Linked DNA regions of Homo sapiens: region 2 is linked to region 1. The links come from fine-mapping of genetic effects on gene expression. Tissue or cell type: nasal epithelium. Region 1 holds a variant in brackets; the other region holds the start of a gene. All regions are shown on one strand. Distances are from middle to middle.

Region 1 (10,445 bases):
CCTCTCACCAGGCCCCTCCCACTATGTGTGGGGATTACAATTCAAGATGAGATGTAGGTGGGGACACAGAGCCAAATCATATCACATGGTAAGCCATGACGTTTAGAGTTTATGCCTGTTATGGGTTGAACTGTGTCTCCTTGAAAAGATATGTTAAAGTCCTAACCTCCGGGACCTATGTATGTGCCCTTATTTGGAAATAGACTATTTACAGAGGTAATCAAGTTAAGATGAAGTCACTTGGGGTGGGCCCTAATCCAGTATGACTGGTATCCTTATAAAAAGGAGACTGTGACACACAGGGAGCTCTCCTTGTGTCGTCCATATGATGACAGAGGAAGAGCTTGGAGTGATGCAGCTGCCAGCCACAGGATGCCAAGGGCCCATGGGCACCACCAGAAGCTGCTAGAGGGAAGGAAGGATTCCACCCAGAGGCTGCATGACCCTGCTAACACCTTGATTTTGGACTTCTGGCCTCCAGCACTGTGGGAGAATACATTTCCGCTATTTGAAGCCACCTGGTTTGTGAGACTTTATTACAGCAACCCTAGTGACCTCATCCAATACTGCTTCTGTTTGCTCCATCTGTGACTGTGATGAGCCACTGACACTTTAGCTTCTCCCAAGTTCACCAGCCCTCTCTGTTCTCCTCTTTTAAGCCAGATCCCAGATTTTACCTTAATATCCACCCTTACTCTAAAGTCTTCTGCCTCCCTTCCTTCTTCACAGTTTTACGTCAGCATTCCAAGCCGAGATGGCTCCAACTCTCCACTTTCTCTTCTGCCTTGTGGACAGGCCAGCCAGGAAGATGGATTCTGTGATGGTTTAATGTGATGGTTCTGTATGCATCAATATGCTTGGACTACAAGGTGCCCAGACATTTGGTCAAACACTACTCTCAGCATTTCTGTGAAGGTCTTTTTGGATGAAATTAGCATTTGAAGTAGCCGACTGAGTTAAAGCAGGCTGCCCTTCCCCTGTGAGTGGGCCTTGTCCAATCAGCTGAAGGTCTGACTGGAAGAAAAGGGCTGACCCTCTCCCAGATAAGAGGGGATGCCTCCTGCCTGACTGCTTTTGAGCTGGATCATTGGTCTTTTTCTTACCTTTGGATTTGAACAAAAATGTTAGCCCTTCCTGGGTCTTGCACCTACTGGTCTTCCGAAGAGAACTACACCATTGGCTCTCTTAGGTCTCAGGCCTTCAGATGTAGACTAGAACTACACTGTCAGCAATCTTGGGTCTTCAGCTTGCCAACTGCAGACCTTGGGACTTATCAGCCCACCATCATTTCATGAGCCAATTCTTTATAGTAAATTTATGTACCTCTCTCTATCTTTTTATTGGTTCTGTTTCTCTAGAGAACACTGGCTAATGCAGATTCCATCACAACACATGTTGCCATGCTCAGATGGGTGGCATGCTATCCAAAATCTCATTCTCTAAAAAGTGTTTCTTGAGCCTCCTTTGTTTTCTGTAATTCTCTAACCTCCCCATCTATCTCTTGCCCTCAGCAGATGACTGGCGAATGCTACTGATATTCCAACTGCAGCCCCTCTGTTAGTCCATATCCTAGTCCCTTCCTGCTAGAAATGGTGCTGATAGAATCTCACAGCTGCTCCCTTTTCCGCAGAACAGCCCCCAGCCAACAGGAAGCCTTACTGGGCAGGCCACCAACCTCAGGCTTGGCCAATGACTTCCTGATACAAGGGCGTAAATGGCAGGTTCCCTTGCCTCAAGGTAGAACTTGAAGTAGAGACAGTAGCGACTCCCTCATTTAATACCCCTAAAGACCCTGTGGCCACTTACTCAAGTAACCATGCACTAGGGGAAAGTAAGAGATGTTTCTGGTGCTGTTCGATACAGGGTCTGGGTTGATGCTGGTATCCAGGAATCCAAAACATCACCCAGGCTCCCCTGTTATCATTGGCCATATGGGAGTCAGGTAGCAAATAGAGCTCTGGCCCAGGTGTGTCTCATGGTAGTGCACTGAGTCCCCACACCCACCCCACGCTCATTTCCCTGGGCCCTAAATGTTTGTAGGAAGGACACTCTTAGCCATCGGGAGGACCCTCACTCTGCCCCTGACCTGCAGTGTAAAAGTTATTACAGTAGAAAAGACCAACTGGAGCCCTGGAATTTCAACTTCCTGCCAAGATAGGGAATGATTTTCTCTTCTCTTCTCTTACGTGGCTAAGAGAAGGAGGAACGATATTGCATCCCAGGAAAATGGCAAGGGCTAGGGCCATCCTCAGAGTCTTGAAGCATCCAGGAGCAGTGGTGCCTCTCACATGCTATTTGATTCACTAGCCCGATCCTATAAAAATTATATGGATCATAGCAGAAGACCCTGGAACTTTAGAAACATAGCCAAGTGGTAGCCCCACCTGCAGTTGCTGCCTGATGTGGTGTCTGTTCTAGTGCAGATTAACAAAGCCTGAGGCATATTGAGTGCAGCCACTGATTGGCAAGTGGAATTTTAAATTCCATGCCTCTCAGAAAAGGAGATCAGAAGTAGTTTACATTACAGGGGACAAAAACTGGACCAGAATGTCTAGTCCAGACAGCTCAACTAAGGTCCAGACCTGCATATTCAGCTGTGTACCTGACATAACCATGTGGTGACTCACAGACTCTTGAGTTTCTCCCCCAAAGTCTTCTCTTATCACTGGCCCTGTGATTGCCTCAATATCTCAGTAGATAACCCCACCAGCTTCCTTGTTTAGCTCAGCATCACCTTTGATTCCTTTTGCTTCCTTTTTAACCTCATCCATCCATCAATCTGGTATTGAATCTGATCCAAGCTGTATCTCAGCTCTATCTCTCTTCCTGCTTGGCTGCCACTCCCAGCCCAGCCTTCATCACTCTCCTGCCAGATCGTCCCTCAGTGCTTCTCATTGAACTTGGAGGACAATCTGCATTTCCACCATGTCCTCCCTTCATGCTCCAGCCAGCGCATGGTGTATTTGTCACTCTTGACAATCATTTTGTCTGTTGACAAAAGCTCAGCATGAGGCAGAACTGTGTCTGTCCTATTCACTGTTGTATCCCCAGTGGTGTCCAGCTCTTAGAAAGTACTCAATAAAACCTCAATGCCTTAGGACTTAACATATAACGAAAGGATGGCTGAATTACTACCAAAGTACGTTCTTGTGCAACACTCAGATCTGGACAGTACCAGCCACTGTCATGTGATTGAAGCCCTTTTATTCCATGTTTCCAAAATAGTGGGTTGTGAAGTTTAATGCAACCAGAAGTGCAGTGCAAGAGGCCAGAGGGAGGAGAGGCAAACAGCCTAGTGAGGTGCCCCCCTTGAGAACACCTTTTTTCCAGGGTCCACCACGGTGCCAACCTGGACTTTCTGCAGAGGAGCCGCGGCCCTTGGTCAGCCGCAGCCCCCAAGGATCATCACCATTGGGGAAAAACATTCCAGCTGTGGTCTGAGGGCTATAGAGTGAGTTTGTGTGATTGAATCTAGAATCTAAAGGAAGAACTGTCTTGCCTTTTATCCACTTTATATGCCAACGTGTTCGCTTCCAGCCACAATTCCAGACTTTGAGAGCATGCTGAATTTTGATCCTGAAACTAAATAGCATTGTGTCATCACAAAACAGTTAATAATGGCACATGCCGTGTTTTGACTGATGTGTTTGATAGGTGGAGGTGAAGGACAGGCAGTCTGTATCTTGTAGAGATGATTGTATGATGTATGATGACGGTGCCCTATACTCGCTGTGTGACCTTAAGCAAATAACTCAACTTCCTTGTGCCTTCTTTCTAAAATGGCAATGATAGGAGCACCTGTGTCCTCAGGCTGCTGTGAGGAATGAGTTTCCACACACACAGCTGTTAGAACTGTGTTTCACATGTTAAAAGCGCTATTGTGAGAGACAGGAAGAACCAGTCTCTCCTAGTTTCCCACACACACCACTCACCTCTGGTCACCAAAAATGCATGAGGATTTATCCTCACTAGCAACTAATTCTCCAGCAGACACCAGCTGGGCATCCTCTAATTCAATTCAATTCTGACATTGTCTGCCTAGAGAGCGTCAGATCCCACAAGTTAAGGGCTCAGTCCCACAAGACCGCCCCCCTTTCAGATGCAAGTCACAAGCCCTAGGTTGTGACCTGTACTTTTAACCAACTGGCTATAAATTGGGGTTTCCTGTGACCCATTCCTCAGGTTTGATTAATTTGCTTGAGCGGCTCACAGAACTCAGGGAGATACTTGTCTTACGATGACCCATTTATTATAAAGGATGTTACAAAGGATAGAGATGAGCAGCCAGATGGGAGAGATGCGTGGGAAAAGGTGTGGGGAGGCGACAGGGAGCTTCCATGCCCTTACTGATGGCACCTCCCCACCTCCAGGCATCCCCACATGTTCAGCTGCCTGCAAGCTCGCCAAACCCTGTCCCTTTGGGTTTTTATGGAGACTTCATTACATAGGCATGGTTGATGACATCACTGGCCATTGGTAATCAACTCAACCTCCAGCCCATCTCCTCTCCTCAAAGGGTGGGGATCAAAGTTCCAGCCCTTTACTCACATGCTTGGTTACCCTGGCAACCAGCCCCCCACCCTGGGGCTATCGAGGAGCCCACCAAGAGTCACATCATTAGAAGAGGAAATGCCCCTATCACCCTGGAAATGCCAAGGGATTCAGGAGCTGTGTGTCAGGAACCAAGAGGAAAAGACTAAATCGATTAGAACAAAAGATTCTCCTAGCACCCCTATCTACCAGGGTTTTAGGATTCTTATCTCAGGAACTGAGAGCAGAGATCAAAATATACTTCTTGTCACATCACAAATCACAGATATGTAAGCATGTGCTGTTGTTTTTAGTATTATAGTAACATTACCTCTATCACGTTAGAGATTGTGAAATGTCATGTCAGAGACTTCAGATAACCTGTCCCAATCCCAGCACTGGAACAGCAGAGTCAGGGTTGCATGCTGTTTCCTCTGGCCCCGCAGCTCATGCCACTTCCAATATGAGATGTCTAGGTTAGCTGATATCTCCCTCTCTTTATCTGTCCTTCATTTGGGCTTTGTTTTCACATCTAAGGGCGGAGAGAATCAAGAGAATCTGTTCCCCCATGACAGGCATTCAGGCATTTCAAGGGAGTGTTCATGAATCCCTGATCCAGATGGTCTCTGCTCCAGGCTAACCAGCCCCTCCCTTTAAGGAGACTTTGTTGGCTCAGGCAGAGTCTAATCCTCCCTGATCCCTCCATATTTCTCTCACCTGACATGTACTCTGTCTGCAGCGCTATGGGTTCCACCACAAAACAGATCCCGCGGCTGCCTGTTTTCATTACTCTACTCTCAGCCAGCCAAGATGCCTTCCCACCAGCTCTCACAGCCTCCACCCTTGTCCCCCGCAAACCGATCGCACTCAGCAACAAAGGTGATCATTTTCAGTGTCAATCAGAGCATGCTGCCACCCTTCCTAAAGCCCTCCAGTGGCTTCCCATTTTCCTCAGAATTAAAACCCAGGGACCGGGAGTGGTGGCTCAAGTCTGTAATCCCAGCACTTTGGAAAGGTGAGGCGGGTGGATCACCTGAGGTCAGGAGCTCGAGACCAGTTTGGCCAACATGGC[A/G]AAACCCCGTCTCTACTAAAAATACAAAACTTAGCCAGGCGTGGTGGTGCGTGCCTGTAACCCCAGCTACTCGGGAGGCTGAGACAGGCGAATTGCTTGAGCCCAGGAGGTGGAGGCTGCAGTGAGCCGAGATCGCACCACTGCACTCCAGCCTGGATGACACAGTGAGACTCTGTCTCCAAAAATAAAAACAAAACAAAAAACAAAATAAAACAAAAAAACAAAACAAAACAACAACAACAACAAATCCCAAACCACTTGGCCCATAACATCCCAGTAATCTGATCCCTGCTTTGATCACCATCATCTCCCTTCTCTGACCCCCTTTTCACCTTGCCCCGGCAACACGGCTGGCTTTCTGACAATTCCTTGTGCATGCCTCAGGGCCTTTGCTCTTGCTTTCCCCTATGCCTGGATTATTCTGCCCCAGATCAGAGGCTCCTTCTCAACATCCAGGTCTCTGCTCTGTTATCACCTTTACAGAAAGGCTTTCCATGACCATGCTCTCAAAAACAATCACACTACACCCCTTAACTCTCTATCCCTGGACCATAAGATGTCTTCTTGTATCACTTAGTACTACTTGATATATATAACTACTCTTGGAGAGCTGTCCTCCTCTCTAGAATGCATACTCCCTGTGGGAGGAGAGATCACCTCTGATCTGCCCCATGTATAATCAGCACAATATTGGCACAGCCTAGGAACTGGTGGGGCAGGCATATTAGTGCTTCCCACCTGCTCCCAAAAATATCCACATCTGAATCCTAGGAGGCTGTGAATATGTCACCATACCTGGCAAAGGGAAATTAAGGTGGCAGAGAGAATGAGTGTTGTAAATTGGCTAACCTTAAAACAGGGAAATCATCATCACTTTGGGAGGCTGAGGCGGGTGGATCAAGAGGTCAGGAGATCGAGACCATCCTGGCTAACATGGTGAAACCCTGTCTCTACTAAAAAATACAAAAAAAATTAGCCAGGCATGGTGGCAGGCACCTATAGTCCCAGCTATTCGGGAGGCTGAGGCAGGAGAATGGCGTGAACCCGGGAGGTGGAGCTTGCAGCGAGCCTAGATCGCACAACTGCACTCCAGCCTGGGCGACAGAGCAAGACTCCGTCTCAAAAAACCAACCAACCAACCAACAAACAACAAACAGGGAGATCATCCTGGTTTATTTGGGTGGATCCACTGTCATCACAAGGGCCCTTAAAAGCAAGAGAGGAGCTCAGCCTGGTGGTCATGCCTGTAACTCCAGCATTTAGGAGGTGGAGTATTGCTTGAGGCCAGGAGTTCGAGACCAGCCTGGGTAACATACAGAGATCCCGCCCCTAAAAAATTTTAAAAATTATCTCGGCATGGTGGTGCATGCCTGTAGTCCTAGATACTCTAGAGGCTGAGGTGAGAGGATCACTTGAGCCTGGGAGATCAAGGCAGCAGTGAGCCGTGATGGCTGAGCACTCCAGCCTGGGTGACAGAGTGAGACCGTGTCTCAAAAAAAAAAAAAAAAAAAAAAGGTGGGAGAGGAGACAAAAGAGAGTCAGAGAGATGTGTCAGAAAGATGTGACATGGAAAGGACCCAGCTCACCCTTGCTGGTTTTGAAGATAGAAGAAGCCATAGGCCAAGAAACCCAGACAGCCCCTAGAAGCTCTAAAAAAATCAAACAAACAGACCCCACCCAGAGCCTCCAGAAAGGAACAGCCCTGCTGACATCCTGTTTAGTCCAGTGAGACACAGTTCTAATTTCTCCAGGGCTGTAGGATAATGAACCTGTGCTGTCTAAGCCACCAAGTTTGTCGGAATCTGTTACAGCAGCCACAGGAAACTACTTCAGCACTAACAATGATTTGCTGAAGGAATGAATAAGTGAATGAATGGAGACAATAGCGAGGGACCCTGCCACATCAGCCAGGGCCCCTGTAACCTCTGTGTCTGTCCTAGTGTGCGGTGTCCAAGGGGCCCAAGCCCATCCATGCCGTTGATTGGAGCCACATCTGCCCTCTCCTTTCTAGTGCCCCTACTAGGATAGCCAGAGGACTCACTAGTTTGATTCAAGGTAGCCACATTGCACTTGCCTCGTATGGAATCGGTCATACATTAAGATGCTCAACTGGAAATTCATGTGCCCCTGGAGCCACGTGTTGCCCAACCCGCTTCTGTGCCTCTGGTTGTGTGTGTGTTTGCTTTCCTGAGGTTAAGGTACATTCATCTCAATGCAGCTCTACTTTTCAATTTTTCTTTGTTTTTTAACATCATCCAAAGACAAGAGAGAAGAAAAGCAAGAGAGAGGAACATCAAAGGAAACTTAACCTTTTTCAATCACTTGAATATGTCATTCCCATGGATTCGTACAACTTTGTTGTAATCTCTCCACTTACAAATGAAGAAACCAAAATATTATTTATTTGTTTAGTACCTAATTCATTTTTCCCACTTACTCATGAACTCTTTTAGTAAACCTTTACTGAGGAAACGAGGCATTGTGTTCTGAACATCACACATGACTGCTACTGCCTGGATGTGTCCCAATTTTCAAAAGGTTAAAATGTGAAGTCATGCACATCTTATAGTCAGAACAATAGGATAATTCTTAGCAGAGAGACAGCCAGTCTGGCATCCTAGTTCTCTGTACTGGGCTCCTCTAGAAAGTTTATCAGATTGCTCCTGATATTTAAAACAACAACAACAACAGCTGCAGCAAGAAAACACAGATGGCCACTCACCACCTCGGGTCTTGCACTGACTTGGTGCTAGAACTCTTCATGGGCAGAGCGTCTGATTCATGCCCACACAGCAATGTAATTTAAGCCACACATTCATGTCCATGAAGCTCCCATTGGCTAGACTCCTGGTCCTACCTCCAAGGTAAAGCTGGTTTCTAAAGAATTTCTCCAACGTGTTCTGGCCTTGCCAGTAATATTTTCCCCCAAGCTCTTTTTCCAGTTCATCAAAAAGGTTCCTGTTGGCCAGGCACGGTGTTTCATACCTGTAACCCCAGCACTTTGGGAGGCTGAGGTGGGAGGATCGCTTGAGCCCAGGAATTTGAGATCAGCCTCGGCAACATAATGGGGCCCCATCTCTACAAAAAACACAAAAAGGTTCCTGTTGCCTCTTTAGGGCTCCCTCCAAATCACCTTTTGTGAGATCCCAATCACCTTTTGTGAGATGAGAAGTTAGTTTCCACAATGATGAAGTGTTTCCTCCTCCTAACACAAGAGTTTCTCAGCCTTGGCACCATGACATTTTTGACTGGATACTTCTGTTGCAGGGCCTGTCCTATGCACTCTAGGATGCTGAGCAGTGTCCCTCACCTGTGCCCACCAGATGCCAGCAGCACCCCCATTCAGTTGTGACAACCAAAAATGTCTCCAGACATTGCCAAATGTCCCCTGGGGGGCATAATAGCCCCAGGGTTATTTCTAACTCTAGTGTTCTATTTTAGTTAGACCAGGTGCTCTGTATTGCCCCTGGCAAGGTTGAATATCCTGTGCTTCTGTGACACTCATTGTCTGCTCAGGGTTTTCAAAACAAGCCAGAGTGGTGATATGGTTTGTTCGTGTCCCCACCCAAATCTCAACTTGCACTGTCTCTCTCAGAATTCCCACATGTTGTGGGAGGGACCCAGGGGGAGGTAATTTAATTATGGGGGCCAGTCTTTCCTGTGCTACTCTAGTGATAGTAAGTCTCATGAAATCTGATGTGTTTATCACGGGTTTCTGCTTTTGCTCCTTCTTCATTCTCTCTTGCAGCTGCCATGTAAGAAGTCCTTTTCACCTCCCGCCATGATTCTGAGACCTCCCCAGCCATGTGGAACTGTAAGTCCAGTTAAACCTATTTTTCTTCCCAGTCTCAGGTATGTCTTTATGAGCAGCGTGAAAACAGACTAATACAAGTGGGATGCTTTGTTTATGACTGTGCTGAGTAAGAGGCCAGTTTTTATCATGGTAGTGTTTCATCAGGGTTCTCCAGAGAATTGGAGCAGGGTGTGTGTGTGTGTGTGTGTGTGTATGTACACAGAGAGAGATTTTTTAAGAAATTGACACACACGACCAGGTGCAGCAGCGCATACCTGTAATCCCAGCATTTTGGGAGGCCAAGCAGGGAGTATCAGTTGAGCACAGGAGTTCTAGACCAGCCTGGGCAACATAGTGAGATCTCATCTCTACAAAAAATACAAAAAATTAGCCAGGTGTGATTGAGTGTACCTATAGTCCCAACTGCTGGGGAGGTGGAGGTGGGAGACTCATCTGAGCCCAGGAAGTGGAGGCTGCAGTGAGCCATGATTGTGCCACTGCACTCCAGCCTGGGCAACAGGAGTAAGACGCTGTCTCAAAAAAGAAAAATTTGTGCACATGATTGTGGAAGCATGGTAAATCCAAAACCTGTAAGACAGGCTGGAGTTCCAGGGAAGAGCCATAGCCCAAGTTCAAAGGTTATCTGCTGGCAGAATTCCTTCTTGCTTAGGATAGGGTCAGTCTTTGTTCTAGTAAGGCCTTCAAATGATTGGATGACGCCAGCTCATGTTATAGAGGGCAATCCGCTGTATTCAAAATCCACAGATTTAAATGTGAGTTTCATTTAAAAAAAAAAAAAAAAACCTTCACAGAAACATCCAGATTAATGTTTGACCACATATCTGAACACTGTGGCCCAGCCAAGTTGATACATTAAAAATAACCATCATAGGCAGCAATGGACAAATTCATTTATTAACAAGAGACGGGTGTGTGTGAGTTCATCTAGAATTTGGGCCAGGTTTCCATAGTTACTGCCTGAAACGTCAGTGTTATAGATGCCGGAGTGAGGCCACCTGTGGTTCTCATCCCTGGTCATGACAACCACAT
Region 2 (10,445 bases), 64 kb before region 1:
TTTTAGTTAAGGAAATTCAGAGATCAATTAGTTATATGTTCGAAGGGTCAACTCCCCAGATTAGTCAAAGCAACAAGAAAGGGGATAATGGATAAAATATAAAACTGCCAAACAGAGAATCTCAGTTGCCTCCACTAGGAAAGGACTTCCCAGAAGATCCACTGCAACCTCATCCAGGCTTTCTCCAAAGCAGGCAGGGCCTCTGAAACCCAAATCCTAGATCTGTACTTTATTAATTAAGAACACAAATAACAACAATGACAATAATACCATCAGCATTCCTGGAGTGGGGCACTAAGTGCCTGGAACTACACTAAGTACTTCAATACGTAGAACATCGTTTATTTTATTTATTTATTTATGTATTTACTTTTGAGATCGAGTTTTGCTAACGTTGCCCAGACGGGAGTGCAATGGGTGATCTCGGCTCACCGCAACCTCCATCTCCTGGGTTCAAGTGGTTCTCCCACCTCAGCCTCCCGAGTAGCTGGGATTACAGGTATATGCCACCATGCCCAGCTAATTTTGTATTTTCAGTAGAGACAGGGTTTCTCCATGTTGGTCAGGCTGCTCTCAAACTCCTGACCTCAGGTGATCCGCCCGCCTCGGCCTCCCAAAGTGCTGGGATTACAGGTGTGAGCCACCGTGCCCGGCCCATTTAATTTTCACATCACCCAACAAGGGAGGCCTTACTGCTAAGTTGCCACGCCAGGTGGGAAAGAGGCCAAGACTGTGAGGTCAATGGTTGCTGCAGTGGTCCCTGATTTGTACCCCCTCCCTGGATCGACATCCTTGGGGAGTTAGTCCTCTCTGACATTTATTCTGCACGTGGCCATGGGACTTGCTTGGGCCAAAGGGACACCAGCAAACGTGCATGCAAAGTGCTTGCACATTGTGCACATTGGGACTTTCTCCTTTGGCTGCTGTTGGAAGCCCAAGAACTTTATGCAAGGCAGCCCAGGCCCCCCTGGCCCAGGGTGGGAAGCCAAGAAATGAGCTGGCCCACTGACAGCCCGTGAGACCAGGCCACCTGCTAACACCCAAACACAGGCGTGAGACCATCCCAGGTCATCCAGCCACTGACCAACCTGAAGCCACCGCAGACACATGAGAAGGCCCAGCAGAGATTGGCAGAGCTGGCCCAGAGCAGAACTGCCCAGCCGACCCACAGAAGTGAAAGCACAGGAAAATGGTTACTATTTGAAGCCATTAAGTTTTGTTTTGTTTTTTAAGAGACAGGGTTTCGCTCTGTAGCCAAGGCTAAAATGCAGTGGTGCCATCATGGCTTAAGTTTCGGGGTTTTTAAATACATCAAACCTAACCTATACAGATAAATTAATGAAATTAATGGAAGCAAGTGAGAGCATTCAGGCAGTCTGACTCCATAGTCTTCACCCTTAACCACTTTCCTGCTCCAGCTTTCTGAGCATTAGGGCCCCCATTTGTAAAATGAACATGAGAAAACAGTCTTTCATTACAGGAGGAGATCAAAAAAAATGAAAAGCATGAACACAGTTGGTCAGTTATAAAACATTACATAGACACCAGCCATTATTCTTATGGATAAACTCTCAATAGCCATCAATAGAAGGAGTCTATTCAAGTAGTATAGACAAATGAATAGACAAATGATTGAGGAGTCATTTCATCTTGAGTTTGGACTATTAGAGAGGCCTAGATTATTCCCCTCCAGCAGGGCAACAAAAGTAAGTGAAGCCTCCTCTTCTCAACCTTACTTCCAGGCCCCCACTCTCCTGCTCACCTCTCCCTGAGACATTTTTATTGTTCATCTCACTCAGCTGAACAACCTGGTACCCTCAGCTTTTAAGACATCGACAAGGAAGGGAATTAGCCTTTAAGAAGCTCATGCTAGGTTCCAGGCAGTACATATGTGTATATGTGTGTGTGTGAGAGAGACAGAGAGAGAGAGAGAGACAGAGTGTGTGTTTCCGTTCAGCCTTATTATAGCCTTTTGAAGTAGGTATTATTACCACCATTTTACAAATGGGAAAACCAAGGCTCAGAGCCATTAAGTAACTTGCAGCAGAACTGAGATCCAAACTCAGGGATTTCTAATCCTAAGGCTTGCAATCTTTCCACAAATGCCTAAAAGTGATACTTTATGGATTTGCCTATTTAGAAAGAGAGCAGCGTTTGTCTGACAATATATCTTGAGTCTCCTACTCTCACTCCCATAGCCAGCATCTGTCCCCTTCTCTGCAGCTCCCCACCTAGCCCAGTCCCTTCCCCTGAACAGCTGGCTCCTCTGATTCCACTCCTGGCTTCCCCTCATACTCCATTACTGGAACAAACCAGTCCATGTCACATTCATCTCAACCCTCCCTGCATACTCGGCACAGGCACACAGTCCTCGCCGTGGCCTACAAGGTCTTATGTGATCTGGCCCCAGCTCCTCTTTGGCGTCATCAGCACCCACACATCTCCTTGCTCTTTCCCAGACGTGCCATGCCTCCTTCCGCCTCTGAGACATAATACTCTTCTCTCTGCTGGGAACAGTTCTCACCCTTGGCTCCTCTGGTCTCTGCTCAGGTTTCCTTCTCTGAGCAGTCTTCCCTGATTGGCCTTTCTAAAACAGCCCTCACCACCCTCCTGTCCTGCTTTGTTTTCTTCCTAGGACATGCTACTGTCTACCTTATGTATCTGTCTGCCCACTAGAATGTAAGCTCCAGGGACAGGGTCTTGTTAATCATTGTGTCTCCATCCTATAGTGTGCCAGCCCTCGCAGGTGCTCTACAAATGCCTGGCGAGTAAATGAAATAACGAATGAGTCAGAGGCCCAGAGAAGAAACCCCATCCTCATAAAAGCCCCATGAAAACCACAAATAACCTTGGAATATTAACATTATGATGAAGGTGACCAAACAGAAGGCATGACATGCTGAAGACCATCCAGGTCTTTGGGGTAGACTGCGGACCCTGCCCAGCATTCCTCAATTAGGGGCTAGAGCATCATGAATGGGATGGTTCATCCCACAGGACTGTCCCACTTTATGCAGAGTTCCAGCATCCTTGGTCCCTGCCAAGTCAATGCCAGCAGAGAGCCCCAGTCATGTGACAGCCCCAAACACTTCTCACATTTTGGGACACCCCCAAGGAGTATGTTACTGTTCCCTCCCCGTCATGGTGAACTCTCACCTCCATCTATGCCCATGATGAAGCGTCCCACGATGAGCATTTCAAAGGCTCCTGCCTGGAGCGAGCAGGCCATCAGCAATGCAGCAGAAATTGCAAACCCATTATTGGCCAGCAAAGTGTGCTTCCTGGAAAGAAAGGAAAGATTTGATGAAGATGTCTAACCATGAGGCATGTCACTGAACTGTCCATCCCAGGAGCAGGAGCCAGGCCCTTCTGAAGGGTGAGTAGAGCAAGACTCAGGCACAGTGCAGGGAGCACTGGCCTTGCCACCTCTGGCTGTGTGACTGGGTTCAGCCCTGGGGTCTACTAGGTCACTTACAAAGGCACCATCAGCCTTGACATCTATGAATTCTCTGTGGTAGTATTTTATTGCTTTAATTCTAAGACTATCATTTAACATTTCTGAAGTCAGTGGTCATCTTACAATTCGTGAGTCAGGGTCCAGGCAGGAAAATGGAAACCACTCTAGGTATTTTAATGGAGAGAATTTAACATAGGGAATTGGTTAAGTGGATATTGAAGAACCGAGATGTCAAAAAGGAAGACCTCTGAAGAAGGGGTGTTTCCCATGTGGTGCTGACACCTCAGGGGCATGGAGGAGGGCCCCGAAGACCTTTGAGAGTGGGCACTGTCCACTGGACTGTTTCCTCTGAGGAGCAATATGATTCTGGTTCTGGAAATGGACAAAAGTTGGAAGCTGGAATCAACTGCCAATGTCATCACTGGGACTGGCAGGAAACTCAGACAAACATGAAAAAGCTAGTCTTTTCTCTCTCCTCTAGTGCCCCTATTGGCAAAGGACAAATGGGGGTGCAGGCCCCAGCCCCAGCATCAGAGAGAGAGAGCCCAGAAGGGTAAGTGTGGAGCTAGGAGACAACAGCTTGACAACCAGCATAGCGTTCTACAACTTTTGTTGGCTCCTTCCCTCCCTCCCTCCCTTTCTTCCTTATTTCCTTTCCTTTCCAGTGGCTCATAAAATAACAATACTCCTCAGACCCAATGGCATCTTAGATTTGATGAACTACAGTACTAAGTGAATGGCTGGACTAATCCTCTCAAACAAGATTAGGGAAATTTCCATGGCAATAATTATTATTAACAGCTCTGTGTCAGGACTGCCATCACTTTTATAAACACATGCCTAAGACCTCATGGTTCAAATACCTGACTTGTTTGGAGGCCTGGGGACCTGGATTCCTGCACCAGCTCTATCCTTCAGGAGCTAGGAGACTTTGAACTTCATTTCTCTGTGTTTTCTTTTCCTCACTTTTGCAAAATGATCCTAAAAGCCCACATTTATTGAACTCTTGCTATAGGATAGACCCTGCTTTAAGTACTTTGCATTAGTAGCTCATTTAATCCTCAGAATGACCCAAAGAGATAGGTACTCTTATAATCTCTATTTTATAAACAAGTTAACTAGGTTGCTGGCAAGCTAGAAACTTGTTTTATTTTTAATTTTTATTTTTGAGACAGAGTCTTGCTCTATCACCCAGGCTGGAGTGGATTGGCACAATCTCTGCTCACTGCAGTTTCCACTTCCCAGGTTCAAGTGATTCTCCTCCCTCAGCTTCCTGGGTAGCTGGGATTACAGGCATGCACCACCACACCCAGCTAATTTTTGTATTTTTAGTAGAGACGGGGTTTCACCATGTTGGCCAGGATGGTCTCAAACTTCTGACCTCAGGTGATCTGCCTGCCTCAGCCTCCCAAAGTGCTGGGATTACAGGCGTGAGCCACTGCGTCCGGCCTAGAAACTTGTTTTAGGTCATATAGTCAGTGAGTCAAGGAGTTGGGGAAACATCTTAGCCCTTTACGGCTTATTTTTTTTCCTATAGACTCAATGAGTTAACAGATATTAAATTGTTTTGTAAATTGTGGTTAAAAAATTATTTTGCCCAATAGAGCCCCAGTGGGTCTCTGATCTTAGAACTTGCGCTCTTCCCACCAGCTAACATTGCCTCTTGTCATAAATTATGGGACTCAGTTATGGCAGATGCTATTATACTCATTATATAAAAATATAAGTTTTTTTCTCTAAACCAGCCTCTCGGGAGACTGGGGCAGGAGAACTGCTTGAACCCAGGAGGCAGAGATTGCAGTGAGCCAAGATCATGCCACCGCACTCCAACCTGGGTGACAGAGCGAGACTCCGTCTTGAAAAAAAAAGAAAAGAAAAAGAAAGAAAGAAACATCAGTGAGGCCAGCCTGGCTGGAGGCAGTAGGGAGCCAGGGAGCAAGCAGTAGAAAGTGAAAGTTGAGAAGAGAAAAGAAGAACTCAGAGAGTCTTCTATGCCACCATAAGAACTAGCGTTTCCCCCCTGGGGGAGATAGCAGCCACTGGGAGATTCCAAGGAGAGGAATGACACCGGCTAATACTTGAACAAGATCACTACATCTTGTCTTCTCTGTTGCTCCTGGACTGCAGGGGACAAGTGTGAAAGCAGGGAGACCAGCTGGGGAGCTACCACAACAGGTGAGTCAACCACTGGTAATGATTTGGACCAGGCTGGGAGCAGTGCACTTAGTGAGAAGTGGTCAGATCCTAGCATATTTTGAAGAGTGAGTTGGTGGGATTTGCTGATGGACTGGACAGAGGTGGAGAGGCATAGAGGAGCCAAGGATGCCTCCAAAAGCTTTGGTCTGAACCCTTACTTTGGACATGATGGTGTATTTTGTGCTAATTTTAAAACTGCATGAAAGGTTTGTGAGAATGTTAAAATTATATGAAAGTCTGACTTGAAACATGTGCAAACGGGAGTGCACACTCTCTGGGCAAGTTTATCATATTAATATATTCCTTCCCAAAATAACCCTCAGCCTGACAGCATTGCAGTGAGGATGGAAATGTGTGCAAATCCTTTGCAAAGCTGACTCACTGGGCTTCAGAGCAGGACTTTAATCATTGTTTCCATTTGTTTCCTGTGGATGAACAGCAACATAAACAAGGGAGATCAATTCTGAAAGCAGAACTCCAGTGTCCCCAGAACTCCACCTAGGATGCCTGATTCATTGTTTTTAGCTTCTCCAATAGTGTAGAATCTTCCCCATGAAACCCAGAAAGTCATCAGCTCTCAAGGGGAAAAAAAGACCAAATACAAGGAAGCATGGTAGGGTGATGAGGAGATTGGAGGGCATGTCCCTTCAGAAGTGTCAAAGGGGCTGGAGACATTTCGCCTGGACAAGAGGTCAGAGAAAGCAGGAGAGCCACCTTCCTTCATGCCATGCTTTAACTTGGTGCAGAGCACCAGGACGGATTGGGGGAAGACATAGGGAATTCTATTTCAGTTTGAATTTGGAAAGTACTTTTCATTAAACCCTAGTAGACCAGAGAACCTATGGAAATAATGTATCTCTCCACAGACCTTTCCAGTAAATCTTCAGCCTGACTGGGCCTATAAGCCAAGATCATGCCTTGTTTCCACATCCCTCACCCTCCTCGTGTTCATCCGTTCCTGCATACCCAGCTTGAATTCCTTGGCTCATCCCTTTAAATATTTATATGCCCATCCACCCCCTTTCATTACATATGCCTGGCAAAACCCCAGCTGGTTAAATCTCTGTCTACTGGGCATCTACAAAGCTCAGCTTGGCTGGAGAAAAACATATGGCTGTGTTGTCCTTTCTCACCTGAAATTCATGACCACCAACCTCAAGAAGGGTTAAGGCTCCCCTGCACTGAGTCTACAGATTCCTGGTCCATCCAACACCCTTCTCTCCTAGAGGACTATTTCATATGTTTTCTCTCTCTCTTCAAATCCCCTTTTTATCATTCTCAGCTGATGACCATGCTTTCTTTTTCACTGAGAACACAGAGGCAATCCCAAGAGACCCTTCCCACATGCCCTCTGCTTGTATTTCTGCACCTGCATCTGTGCCCAGACACCTGCCTTCCCTTGTTTTCCAACCCTGGTGCAAACCATGTCCTCTCTCACCTGCGCTATTGCAAGGTTCTCCCAACCAGGCTCTGAGACCCCCTGATAACAGCACACCTTTCCAAATGCAAGTCAGATCAGTTCTTAAAACGTTCCACTGACTTCCCATTTTGCTCAGAGGAAGAGTCTCAACCCTCGCCTGCAAAGTCCTCAGGATCTGACTCCAAATATCCCATCTAGCTTCCTATGATTATCTCTACACTGACCTCCACTCTCATCTTCAAAGAAGTGGAGCCTCTTCTTGCCCCTGGGCTTTTGCACCTGCTGCCTCCTCTGCTTGGAGAGCTATTTCCCAGGGATGAGCGTGCTCACTCCCTTGCTTCCTTCAGTGCTCCCTGCACAAGTCACCATTTTAGAGAATCCTCTGAACAAAGTGGTGAGCTCTTCACCCTCCCCAGCATCTTCTGACCTCCTTGAGCTGCTCTGTTTTCTACATTGGTCCTTGTCACAGGCCGAATGGCACAGTCTGCATGCTTGTTACTTGGCTGTGCTCCCCGCTTGGCTGCATGCTTCAGGAGGACAGGGACTTTGGCAGCTTTGCTCATGCCTGAGTGCTTGGCACATAGAAAGTACTCAACAGATATGTGGTGAGTAAATAATCGGATGAGGGAACGGAAAGTGTGCAAGCATACAAGGATGCTTAGATGCAAGCAAGGATGGCCACACTGGGGAGATGTGATAGAAAAATTCAAGCATCGAGCATTTTCCACCCATCCTTCCATTTATCCAACAAATGTCTACTGCTTGCCTGCTGTGTACAAGCTGCTGTGTTGGGTGCTAGGGGCCATAAATACATATGGTTCTTACGTTGAAGGGCTCCCTTATCAGGGAAGAGACGGGAACATAATGAAATGAGTACAACCCAAAATGCCAAGTGACGTAACACAGGGAACTGAAAGTCCTGTGTGAGCTCAGAGAAGGCCAATATTTAGTTCTGGTAGATATGTCCTAGGCAGTGGGGGATGGGGTTGAAGATTTCTTATGATTTCTAACCCTGCTTTCCCGGCTCATGCGTCTGTAATACCAAAGGGGTTGTGTCCATAATAAAACAAACCAGTGATGCAGGGACAGCTTGTACCATTGAAGCCTCTTGTTTTGGATGTGTTGACTCTTTGTTTTACACTTTGGAACCCTGCCGTCCCGAAGTCTTCTGGTCTTATCTACCATGCCCAGGCTTTCTCCTTATGTCCCATCATGAACCCAAGTTTCCTTCTTCCAGAGTTCTTGCCATTCTCACTATGCTTAGAAGACTAGTCAAGTCTTCTAAGGCTGGGAGAAGCAGGGTTGAGGATCAGGTTTCCTGGCTGGCTGGTTATCTCCCTATCCCCTCAGGGATTCCCCCAGCTCAATGAATGCTGGCTTCTAAAGGCTCAGGGTTGACTCTTCTCCAGAAGATTGACATTGGCTCTGAAGGTGGATCCCCCTTTCCCAGTGCTGCCTGCAGCGAGTGACAGATGAGTGGTAGGGGTGGATGCAGCCCCCTTACTTCAAGTTGGGTGACTCTGTGGTGTGATTATGCCCCAGAGCTCCCCCAAGTGAGGCTAAACTTGACCAGGGAGTGCAGCCTTGCCTGGCTCCTTCCCCTGCTGCTTTCTGCTTTCCCCACCTTAAAGATTACTCCTGAAGAGCCCTTCCTCCACAAGCCATGTGTGCATCCCAATCCCTGCCTCAGGCTCTGCTTCTGGGCAATTGACTTTCTGAGACAATTCCAGCCTGAAAGAAGAGGTTGTCAGCAGCACGGTGTGTTGCTCAGTCATGGACTAAACTATGTTCCTGCCCCCTGGTTGAGAACCCTTGAACGCATGTAACCTCGCTCGGGCCAAGGAGATTCATGCCTGGGACTTTAACTACAATGATTGGAAGGAGAATTTCCATCAAGCTGGGGCCATCTTGCACCTCCACAGAAGAAACTGCCTGACAATGAAGCCAACAAAAAACAAGCTGAGCTGAGAGGTGGAGAAAGAGAGAGATTTGGATTTTTTTAAGGCTCACCTGTTAAAGCCCTAACCCCTAATGTGACTGCATTTGGGGACAGGGCCTTTAAAGAGATAATTAAACTAAAATGAGGTCACAAGGAAGCGGCCCTAATGTGGGATGATTGGTGTCCTTGTAAGAAGAGGAAGGGACACCAGGGATGCACACACACAGGGAGCACACAGCGAGAAAGCAGCCATCTGCAAGCCATGGAGAGAAGCCTCGGGAGGAAAAGACCTGCCGACACTTTGATCTTGGCCTTCCAGCCTCCAGAACTGTGAGAAAATGAATGTCTGTTTGCTGAAGCCACTCCATCTGTGGTATTCTGATATGGCAGCCTGGGCTAACCAATGCATGCTTGCCACATACACTGAAGGCTCCTCCAGCAGGCACCTAGAGAGACACAGTTATTTTCTACTACTATAAAATACAGATGCCTTTTAAAGGGTTGAAGTAGAAAATGATGAAAGCAAAAATAGTCCTTTTGACAACCTGCTATTTCCCTGGAGTGATGTATGGGATGCCTGTTGTTTGTGCTCACCGAACCTCCATCCTTCTTCTGGGAGGAGTTCCTCAAATTTCCACCAAGAAACCTTCCTGCCTGTCTCCACCTAACCATGGCTTCAGGAGTGGATGCGTGGTACAGGCCTGGCCAGTCAACATAAAATCACTCATCATTCTCAAGGCATTTAAGATGTGCTTTTTTAAAAGCACTTAATCCAGAGTGTTAGAATGTTATTTGCCAGGATTTTCTAACCTTGGCACTATTCACATTTGGAACTGGAAAATTCTTTGCTGTGGGGGTTGTCCCGTGCATTGTAGGATATTTAGAGGCATCCCTGGCTTCTCCTAGATGCTAGTAGCACCCTTGAGTTATGAAAACCAGAAACATCTCCTGGCATTGTCAAATGTCCCCTGATGAGGCAACATTGCCCTCTGGTTGAGAACCCTTGAACGCATGCAACCTCGCTCAAGTCAAAGAGATTCATGCCTGGGACTTTAATCACAACTATCGGAAGGAGAATTTCCACCAAGCTGGGCCCATCTTATACCTCCATGGGAGAGATTGCCTGACAATGGAGCCAACACAAAGCAAGGTGAGCTGAGAGGTGGAGACAGATTTGGATTTTTTAAAAGCTATCATCTGAGCCACTGGATTCAACCAAGTTATATTTTAGTTATTGTGAGCCAAGTAATTCCCTTTTGGGCTTCAGCCAGTTTGCTTTGGGTTCCTGTCACAGGCATTCAAAAAGCCTCCTTAGTGACATGAGACACTGTAAATTTGATCTCGTTCCACCCTCATAGCTGCTCCCTCAGGTGGGTTTGTTTATCTGCACTTTACAGATTTAAAAATTAAAGGGCATAGCAGCTGCCTCTTGT

What was found. PIP is the estimated chance that this variant, and not a neighbour inherited with it, causes the effect.
Region 2: SLC2A9-AS1 starts here. The variant in region 1 is fine-mapped to the expression of SLC2A9-AS1 in nasal epithelium (TOPMed, PIP 0.94).

What each region holds. Positions count from the first base shown.
Region 1 is chr4:10,046,509-10,056,953 of GRCh38, forward strand. No RefSeq gene overlaps it. Among named protein-coding and RNA genes, the nearest start is that of MIR3138, 27 kb to the right of the region's middle. The variant A/G (reference allele first, on the strand shown) is at 5,603.
Region 2 is chr4:9,982,513-9,992,957 of GRCh38, forward strand. SLC2A9-AS1 (SLC2A9 antisense RNA 1) reads left to right here and starts at 5,611. Exons shown (of 4, transcript NR_183862.1): 1 at 5,611-5,632. SLC2A9 (solute carrier family 2 member 9) reads right to left here. Exons shown (of 12, transcript NM_020041.3): 4 at 3,157-3,281.